2 separate regions of the Homo sapiens genome follow, and region 1 is linked to region 2. Evidence: fine-mapped expression QTL. Tissue or cell type: whole blood. Region 2 holds a variant in brackets; the other region holds the start of a gene. All regions are shown on one strand. Distances are from middle to middle.

Region 1 (5,000 bases), 160 kb after region 2:
TGAAGTTCCCCGACTCATGATGATGAGCCCTTTTCATGTTTTCATTGGCCATTCGTATATATTTTTTAGTGAAGGCAAAATATTTTGCCTTATTTAAATTGTATTTCTTTTTATATTGTTGATGTGTAGGAATTATTTATGTATTGTGGATGCAAGTTCTTTGCCAGATAGATGTAAAGTGAGAATATTTCCAGGGTTATCTATTCATTTTTAAGTGATGTCTTTGTTTAGTAGACATTTTTAATTTTGGTGATGTCCAATTAATCAATGTGTCCCAAATGGCTATTTTTTTTTGTGTCCTAGCTAAGAATTTTTTTTTTTTGCCTGTCCAAGAGCATGATTTATTTATTTATTTTTTGCCTGTTCAAGGGTCTTCTCTGTATTTTTATGAAATATTTACGGTTCTAGCTTTTATGTTTAGGTCCATGGTCTATTGTGAATTGATACTTGTATATAGAACAAGGCAAGGACAAAGTTCTTTTTTCTGCTGCTGCTTCTTCTGTAGAGGTACCCAGCTGTTCCAGCAATGTTTGTGAAAGACTGTTTTTTCCCCACTGAATTGACATGGTGCTTTGTTAAAAAAATCAATTGACTAGATATGTGTGGATCTATTAGTCTACTTTCTATTTTGTATGTTTGTATGTTTCTGTGAATATCACATTGCCATAATTACTATTGCCTTATTATAAATCCTCAAGTCAGTATAAGTCTCTCAACTTTGTTCATCTTTGTCAAGATTGCCCAGACAGGCCGGGCAGGTGGCTCACCCCTGTAATTTCAACACTTTGGGAGGCTGAAATGGGTGGATCACCTGAGGTCGAGAGTTCAAAACCAGCCTGACCAACACGGAGAAACCCTGTCTCTACTAAAAATACAAAAGTAGCCAGGCGTGATAGTGCATGCCTGTAATCCCAGCTACTCGGGCGGCTGAGGCAGGAGAATCGCTTGAACCCGGGAGGCGGAGGTTGCAGTGAGCCGAGATCGCGTCATTGCACTCACTCCAGCCTGGGCAAGAAGAGCAAAACTCCGTCTCTGTCCGGACAATCCTAGATTATTTGCATTTTCATATGAATTTTAGAAACAGCTTCTTAATTTCTTTGAAAAATTTTCCTGGGATTTGGATTGAATTGTATTAAATATATAGATTCTGTAATATATAGAGTCTAAAAATATACAGTGTGGAGAATAGATGTCTTAAGTCTTCCAATCCGTAAACGTGGTATATCCCTTTATTACTTAGATGTTTCATCTCTGTTAGCAATATTTTGTAGTTTTCACAGGAGATATCTCATATATTATCCAATGAATTTATACTTTGGTATTTTGATTTTTAAATGCTATGGTAAATGGCATTTTTAACAAACTTCACTTTTCAAGTTTCCATCTCTAATATATAGAATTGCTATTGATTTTTATATTCCATGATCTTGATAAACTTAATATTTCCAGTAGTTTTTTTTTTTGTAGATTTCAAAAGTTGGTCTACATATAATTATGCTCTCTGTTAAAACCAGTAGTTTTAATTCTTTCTTCTCAATCTTTATGCTTTCTAATTTTATTTTTATTTCTTCACTTGTTGCAAAGCAGTTGTCCCAGGTGGGAGCCAAAATCCTTATCTCATTACTAATCTTAGGAAAAAGTAAAATGTTTCACTATTATGAGGTCACCTGTAGGTTTCTTATAGATGTTCTTTATCAGATTAAGAAAGATCATTTCTACTCTCGGTTTTCTGATCGTTATTAATTCAGAAAGGGTGTTGAATTTTGCCAGATGCTTTTATTTGCATTTATTGAGATAATTACATATTTTTATTTATTATGTGGTGAATTATCTAAATTGGGTAAAAAGAATTAAAATCATTGTCCAATTGAACATTTTGCCTGTCGGCTATGGGTTTCCCTTTTCCTTTGGTTAAATAACAGTTCTGCCACAAAATAAAAATCTAGAAACACACATTCCCCTTTGGCCTCCTTAAAAAAAATTAAAACTTCAACAATTGCACCCCTCTCTATTACTTCCCTATAGTGAACTCCCATCCTTCTGGGAAAGCAAAAAGCCTGGGGCGCATTTGTGTACTTGAGACGCGGAGCCCCTCTCACCTTCGGCATCCCCCGGGGACCCCTCTTCCACCCTCAGCCCTCCCCTCCTCTTCCTCTGAAGAGCCGGGCGGCCGCTGCGGCCAGCGGTCCTCCCTCCTGGCATCCTCTGCTGTGAACCGCGGCCTGCAGGGTGCTTGCGAGCGGCCCGGGCGCGCCCCCTTCCGGCCCCGCAGGTCACCCGGCTACAGCCCGGGTTTTCCCGGGACCCGCGCCGCGCGGCTGGGCAGGAAGCGCCAGACGCCTGGGGCCCACGCCGTCCGCGGGAAAAGGGCAAGGCGCTGGGTTTTCCAGCAGCAACCTTTGGACCCCGCGATCCAGTAGCTCCGGTAACTCCACGCGGGGCGTCTGGGTGGAGGAGCCGGTCCTGGAGCACGGCTGCGAGGAGCACCCGGACCGGAGGGTCCCCAGACCGGGACCTCCGAGTCAGGGAGGATTCTACGCCAGGGAGCGCCCCAGACTGAGAGCGCCCCAGACCGCTACACTCCCGGACCCGGAGCTTCGCCCGACCGCGGGCAGTGCCCACCTGCAGCCTCCACCGGCCGGGGTTAGCAGCCAGGAGCTGCCAGACGCCTGACATTCTTCTTTCTGTTCCTACTTTTTTTCCTTCTTCTTCTTTTTTTTTTTTTTTGTAGCCCTCTCTGGGTGCCTTATCTCTTTAATCACACCTCTCTTTCACTTTCCACGGTAGTCAGGAGGCGGAGATCGCTGCTTCTCACCTACTTTCTGAACTTGGCCTCCGCAGTCGCGACCTGGCGTGAAGGAGGAGCTGCCGCCCCCGCCCCAGCCTCGGGGACGCCTCTCTGAAGGTAAGGGTGGGCTCCGCTGCCACCCGCATCCCCTCCCCACCCCCCAGAGGAAGGGAAGACCACCATCCGGGGAGGGATTCTCAAAACAAGATCAATTAAGAGAGAGAGAGAGATAGTGTGTGTGTGAATACGTGTGAATAATTGATGAGACAGCATCCTGTCTTTCTCTGAAAGTATAGTTTTAGAAATTAAGACATCCCCAATTATTTTCTGGAGAGGTGAGAACGACTGAAATAAATGATAACAATAGTTGTCATTTTTTAAGTGCTTACTGTGTGCCTGACACTGTAGAAAATTTTTAGATATCTTATTTTCACTTAATCCTCCTAAGGGCCACATGAAATAGGAACTATTATTATGCTTTAATAAAAGGGAGGAGGAATTCCGTCATTTACCCAAGAGTATCCAGCTACTAAGTAGTAGATCCCAGATCCACACCTACAGTTTTTCTGATTCCAGAGCCTTTGTCTTTTTTCTGCCCAGCCTTGGGAAGTTAAAATGCCCAGCACCTTGCATCGCAGTTATCAGACAAATTAATGAGGTGTCAATTGCAGCCAGATACAGAGATCCAAGATTATTGTATTCATTTCACTGACTTCCCTTGCTTCATTCTCAAGACCCTTTGCAAATACTGATTTTGTGTCATACACAGTGCTGCTATTGGGAGCACACCTCTCAACCTCAGGGCCTTGGATGGGCTAGGAGGGGTAAATTTGGGGAATTGGGTTTGTGCAGGTTCTGGGGACAGTGTTTTCCCTCTCCCTGCACAAATATACATCCAAAGGCTGAGAACTAAGGCTAAGGCCTAGGAATGTGGATTGAAAAGGCAGGGTCTAAATCCCAGCACTTGGGAGGCTGAGGTGGGCGGATCATGAGGTCAGGAGATCGAGACCATCCTGGCTAACATGGTGAAACCCCGTCTCTACTAAAAATACAGAAAATTAGCCAGGCATGGTGGCATGCATCTGTAATCCCAGCTACTCGGGAGGCTGAGGCAGGAGAATCCCTTGAACCTGGGAGGCAGAGGTTGCAGTGAGCAGAGATTGTGCCACTGCACTCCAGCCTGGGCGACAGAGTGAGACTCTATCTCAAAAAAAAAAAAGAAAAAAAAGAAAAGGCAGGGTCCCTGCCTTCAGGGACCTCACCAGAGAGTGGGAGCTAGTCCAGGAGTGATGGAAACACCTGCAGAGTGATGGAGACGGGCTTGGACATAGGCATGTGCCATTTGGGGCTGTTGCAGTTGGAGAGCTTCCTTGAGAAGGCAAATACTGAGCCAAGTTGAAAGGACTCTAGGGACCTGGCATCTGGGATAAGTGGGGAGGGTGGCCCAGGTAGCACAGGCATAGGCAGATTTGGGGGGAAGCATAAGGCTAACAACAGACACTTGTGTGACAAGGACTATGAGGTGGCATTGATTTTCTTGGCCTTACAGATGAGAAGCCAGATTCCACACAAATTATTTTGTTTGTTAGAGTTTAAGCGTGTGTGTGTGTGTGTATGTTATGCCCCAAGATCATTTTCTCCTCTTTGCATTTGGTTGTTTTATCATCTCACAGGCTGAGTAAAACGACTATGCATGGAACACTGTAGAAGAAAAATTATATTAAAAAAAAACTGGTGTTATGATTTTCATCCAGGCATTTTGTCTCAGGAGTTGCTCGATTGTATGTGTTGCTAATGAGTGATTTATATTGAGGCATCTACATTGATTCATGTGTGTCCTTGTGAATAGCTGTAATCTGAGGCTGGCCATTTCACTTCCTCAAATCTCAGGTTCCTCATTAGAAAGAGCTTTGAAATGGCTCTTTCCCTGTACATTATGTGTTTCTGTGAATTACTTTTAGAGAAAGGTCAGTTTCTCAGGGTGGGACCCATAAACAAGGGCAACTGGGCAGAGCCAGGGGTTCAGGTGACTGTTTGGACCCTCTGGAAGGGCTTTTTACTGTGCTGCCTTGGGAGACAGAGTGGTCAGCTTGGAACTGACCTTAAGCCTAGGTCACCCAATTTTTGAAGGAAACTTTTTTTTTTCATTTAGAGAAAACTTCATGCCTTTGGGTGATTAGGTAAGTTTGTGACTATTCGTTATGTGTGTGTA
Region 2 (5,000 bases):
TTCACCTTCAGTCATTATTCATTCTCTCTTACACACATACACACACACGTGCACACACACACACACTTACTTGATTAGTTTCATCAGAGACTTGTCAGTTCTAGTACTCTTTTCAAAAGCTAACTTTTGACTTTGTTGATCCTTTCTGTTATATGTTTCATGTTCATTTAGGTTGTTTAGTTTCCCTCTTTTACAAGAAATGTGGAAGTGAGTGTCCTTATACCTGTATTTTAAGGCACGTTTGCCAGTGAATGCATTCCTTTAAGATTACTAGCCCTAGAATTGCTCATTTGTAGGGCATGCAGATGAACAAAGTATTCAACTTTGTTGATGTTACACAAATTGCTTCACAGAATTTTGTATCAGTTTATACTTTTGCCAGGAGTATTTTATTTTACTTTATTTTATGACAGAGTCTCACTCTGTTGTCCAGGCTGGAGTGCAGTGGTGTGATCATGGCTCACTGCAGCCTAATTCCTGGGCTCAAGTGGAAGCCCAGGTAATTTTTTAAATTTTTTGTGTGACAGAATCTTGCTATGATGCCCAGACTGGTCTCGAACTCCTGGCCTCAAGTGGTCCTCAGGCCTTGGCCTCCCAAAGTGGTAGGATTACAGGCATGAACCACCATGCATGGCTCACCAGGAGTATTCTAGATTTCCTACAACCTTGTGTTGAACTTTGTATTATAAGCCTTTGATTTTTAAAATCAGTTTGGTGGGTATAAAATGTACCTTTTTATTTTATTTTGCTTTTCCTTAATTATTAGTGAGATTGACCACATTTTTCAGTTTATTGGCCATTTCTGGATCCTCTTCTGAACTGCCCACTCATATCTTTTGGTATATTTCTTATTTTACTTTTCATGCCATTTTCTTGTGACTTATAGGAGATTTTATATATTTATATATCCTGGGTATGATTGTTTGCAATGCATTAAAAAAACCCCTTTTCATTGAAGTATAACGTATACATATAAAATGCAGAAATCATAATTGGACAAGCTTGTTGGATTATCAGAAAGTGAACATACCTTTTAATTACCCTTTCCCATGAAAGTTAAGAAAGAAAACATTACTAGCACCTCCGAAGGCCCACCTCTTCCATCTTGCAAAAACTATGCCTCCCTAGTCCCCCAAATAACCACTTCCCTGATTTATGCTATCATAGATTGGATTTACCAGTTTTTGAATTTTATTTAATTTGAATAAAATCATATGTAGTGTTTATGTCTAGCTTCCTTGGCTCAATAGCAAAACAGTGGGAATCATCTATGCTGTTTCATGTGGCTATATTTCATCCATTTTCTTTGCTGTGTACTATTTCATTATTATTATTGTTAGACTCTTGAGTCATTTCCAACTTCTGGGTCTTAGAATCAAAGCTGGTATGAACACTTTCCTCACTTATGAATGCAATTTTGTGGGACATATTACATGAGAGTGAAATAGTTGGGTCATAAGGGTACGTAGAAAATGCCAAACCATTTTCCAAAGTGGTGCCAATTAACAGTTCCAGCAGCAGTGTATAAGAGTTATTTATGCCCCTATACCTGACAACACATGGTACTATTAGTCTTTTTAATTTTTGCTATTTGGATAAATGAGTAATTGTGTCTCATTTCAGCTTTAATTAACACTTCCCTGATTACTGATAATGTTGATCTTCTTTAAATTTTCTTATTGGCACTTGGATGTCTGTGTGTGTGTGTGTAATTTTTTTCTTTGAGTGCTTGCTTGTGAAAATTTTTTTTGAGACTAGCTCTTGCTCTGTTGCCCCGGCTGGAGTGTGGTAGTGCAATCATAGTTCACTGTAACCTTGAACCCCTGGGCTCGAGTGACCCTTCTGCCTCAGCCTCCTGAGTGGCTGCGGGTTACCTTGTCCAGGAGGTATCATTTTTTTTTTTCTGTGAAAAGCCAAATAATAAATATTTTAGGCATTGTAGGCCGGATGGTCTCTGTTTCACCCACTCAACTCTGTTTTGGAAGCACAAAAACAGTTGTAGACAATGTAGAAATGAAGGAGTGTGGTTGTGTTGCAATAACATTTTATTTACAAAAACAGGTGGTTAGCCACATTTGGCCCGTTGTGTGGTTTGCTAGCCTCTTGTCTATTTCTCATTGATTTGTAGTAGTTCTTTATAGATCTGGATATCAGTAATTGTTACAATGTGTCCTTCTAAGCAATGGCTAACCTTTCTACTCTGGTAATGAGGTCTCAGACTTCCTAGTTTTAATGCAGTCTGATGTATTGATTTTCCTTTGTGATTAGTACTTTCTGTGACTTGTTTAAGAATCTTTTTCCTACCCCTAAGTAAAAAGACCTTTTTTCCTATATTTTCTTCTTGAAGTTTCATTGTTTTTCTTTTTCCACTGATTTTTAAGTGTGTAGTGTTGGTAGGGTCAAATGTAATTTTTTTCTCTGTGGACTTATAGTTTACCTGTTCTTTTCACGTTGCTTTGCATGCAACGTAAATCATATTGGTCTTTGTGTGTAGATCTGTTTCAGAACCCTCTGTAGCATTCCCTTATTCTATTTCTTTCTT[TCTC/T]TTTCTTTCTTTCTTTCTTTCTTTCTTTCTTTCTTTCTTTCTTTCTTTCTTTCTTTCTTTCTTTCTTTCTCTCTCTCTCTCTCTCTCTTTCTTTCTTTCTTTCTTTCTTTCTTTCTTTCTTTCTTCTTTCTTCCTTCCTTCCTTCTTTCTTTCTTTTTTTTTTTCTTTTTTCAGATGGAGTCTCAGTCTCTCTCCTAGGCTAGAGGGCAGTGGTGCGGTCTTGACTCATTGCAACCTCTGCCTCCTGGGTTCAAGCCATTCTCCTGCCTCAGCCTCCAGAGTAGTTGGGATTACAGGTGCACACCACTATGACTGGCTAATTTTTGGTATTTTTACTAGAGACAGGATTTCACCGTGTTGGCCAGGCTGTCTCAAACTACTGACCTCAGATGATCCACTTGTCTCAGTCTCCCAAAGTGCTGGGATTACAGGTGTGAGCCAGCGCATCGGGCCCTTATGCTTGTTAATTATTATGGCATTAGATAAGTCTTAAGTTTTGTATAAGTCCTCTGCTTTTCCTTTTTCTGAAATGTTGCCTTGGCTATTCTAACTTCTGTTTCTGCAGCACTTGGAGATGGACTCAGGGCTATGACTAGCAATCCTAAGTGAGCATCGGATTTGATCCTCTGGATCTTTTAAAAATTCTGATGTTCAGCCTCACCTTCTGCTAACTGAAGCAGGTCACCCATGGGTGGCGCTTAGATGCCTTTATTTTAAAAACAACCCCTGGGCTTGCAAATGTAGGCAAAAGCTGAGGGTCAGCAGTGTAAGCAGGAGGGGTCACCTGATACTATACCACCTGCTCAGATTTGGTGATCCAGGTATGGCTGTTTTTGCCACTACCATGTGCTCAGACCTGGAATCACTCTTTGGGCCTCAGTGTTGTCATCTGTAAAACCAGAGGGTTGGAATCAATTCTGCAATATCTGGAGTCTGTGATCTTCTTGGTGCTGTGCCAAGGGATGTCATATGTCTTCAAAGAAGTTACAATTTATCAGAGGAAGCAGACAAGTAAACTAAGAATTTTATTACAGCATGAGGTGAACATAAAGAAAGCAAAACTAGAGCAGACCCTGGGAATGTCCATGGCTATGCTTCCTGGAAAAGGTGACTTTGAACTGTGCTTGAAGAGTGAACACAGTTAGCCTGGTGGGTACGGCAAGGAAGGTCAGTAATTAGAGGGAAGCAGCAGGTGCAAAGGCGTTGGGTGAGAAAGAGAATGGTGTTTGGGGGCCTTGGTTAGAGTTTAGGGCACATGTAGAAAGATGGTGCTAGAAAATAAACACCATTTATGCCAACCTAAAGCATTTCAACAGTGAATCCTACCATCAGGAGAATGGCATGAGCAAATTCACATTTGAGAAAAGTCCTTCTGTGGGGCTATAGTGAATACATTGGAAGGCCTTGAGAATGGTGGCATGCTGATCATTTGGACTATCCTAGAAATCAAGTTAAGAAGTGCGGTTCATTTCAGAAAGTTATAAAGTAGAACTGAAAAATTAGGGAAAAGGAGGAACTCATGTCTGAGGGCCCCTAATTTTTCTAATTGTAAGGAGATGTTATGGGGAAAATTTGAAAGAGTAATGTAAGTAAATAGATGGAGATGTAATGAATTTGTAGTGGTACCAAGACCCCTGTTTATGTGATTATCTCCTATAGTGCTCTGCTCTCTGGTTGAAGGCTTGCAGGAGAGGGATGAAGGGATCCATCAGAATGGGTCTTTGCAGGTGAAGATGCTGGAAGGACGGAGGGCTGCAGAGTTGAGGTACTGGAAGGGAAGTGATTCAAGTGATGGACACGTGAATCCAGGATGGACAGGAAAGGAAATGATACCTGAAAGAGCTTGGAAATTAGACAAAAGTAGAGAGGTCAGGTGGGCTAATTCCAGTTAAGATAGAAAAGTGAGTTGAATGGATAGAAAGTTCAGGTGGAAAAGTGTAATGCCCATGGTGAGTCTTTTTATCCTGTAGAGGCCATAAAACTAAAAAGACACAGGAACAAAATGACCATACCACCTTACATTTTGCTGAGTCACCTACTGCTAAGGCTCTGGATGGAATTCCATGTCTCCAGCTGGCTTTGCTGAAAGGTAAAGGTGAGGATGGAGGATCTTCCTGCTCTTTCTGCTGGAAAGCAGAGCCCTGGAGACACGGAAATTTCTCCAGCAGCATTGAAGTGTCCAGTCTCCAGTTCTGTGGGAGCTGAGTATTCCACTTTATTTGTTGGGGTGGCTCTTCCTGATGTGGCATTACTTGACACACTGGAGTTGCATAAGCGGCAACTCCTGGTCTCTGAATTGCAGGTGGTGTATTTCAGAGTTGATTCCCCACTTTCCAGATTGTGGTAGAGGTAGCGGCTCTCAGGGCAAGCTACTTCTGCAGTGTGGTTCTGGCCTCGATGCCACTTCCTGAGTACTTTCACAGATTTAGCAAAGCACCTAGTATCTTGTCTTGAA

The links. PIP is the estimated chance that this variant, and not a neighbour inherited with it, causes the effect.
Region 1: IL18R1 starts here. The variant in region 2 is fine-mapped to the expression of IL18R1 in whole blood (INTERVAL, PIP 0.95).

Annotation. Positions count from the first base shown.
Region 1 is chr2:102,353,496-102,358,495 of GRCh38, forward strand. IL18R1 (interleukin 18 receptor 1) reads left to right here and starts at 2,301. Exons shown (of 11, transcript NM_003855.5): 1 at 2,301-2,905. RefSeq lists an enhancer at 2,070-2,571 and silencers at 2,166-2,275, 2,296-2,355.
Region 2 is chr2:102,193,016-102,198,015 of GRCh38, forward strand. All of the region lies in intron 4 of IL1RL2 (interleukin 1 receptor like 2), which reads left to right. Among named protein-coding and RNA genes, the nearest start is that of IL1RL2, 8.5 kb to the left of the region's middle. RefSeq lists an enhancer at 4,062-5,000. The variant TCTC/T (reference allele first, on the strand shown) is at 2,543.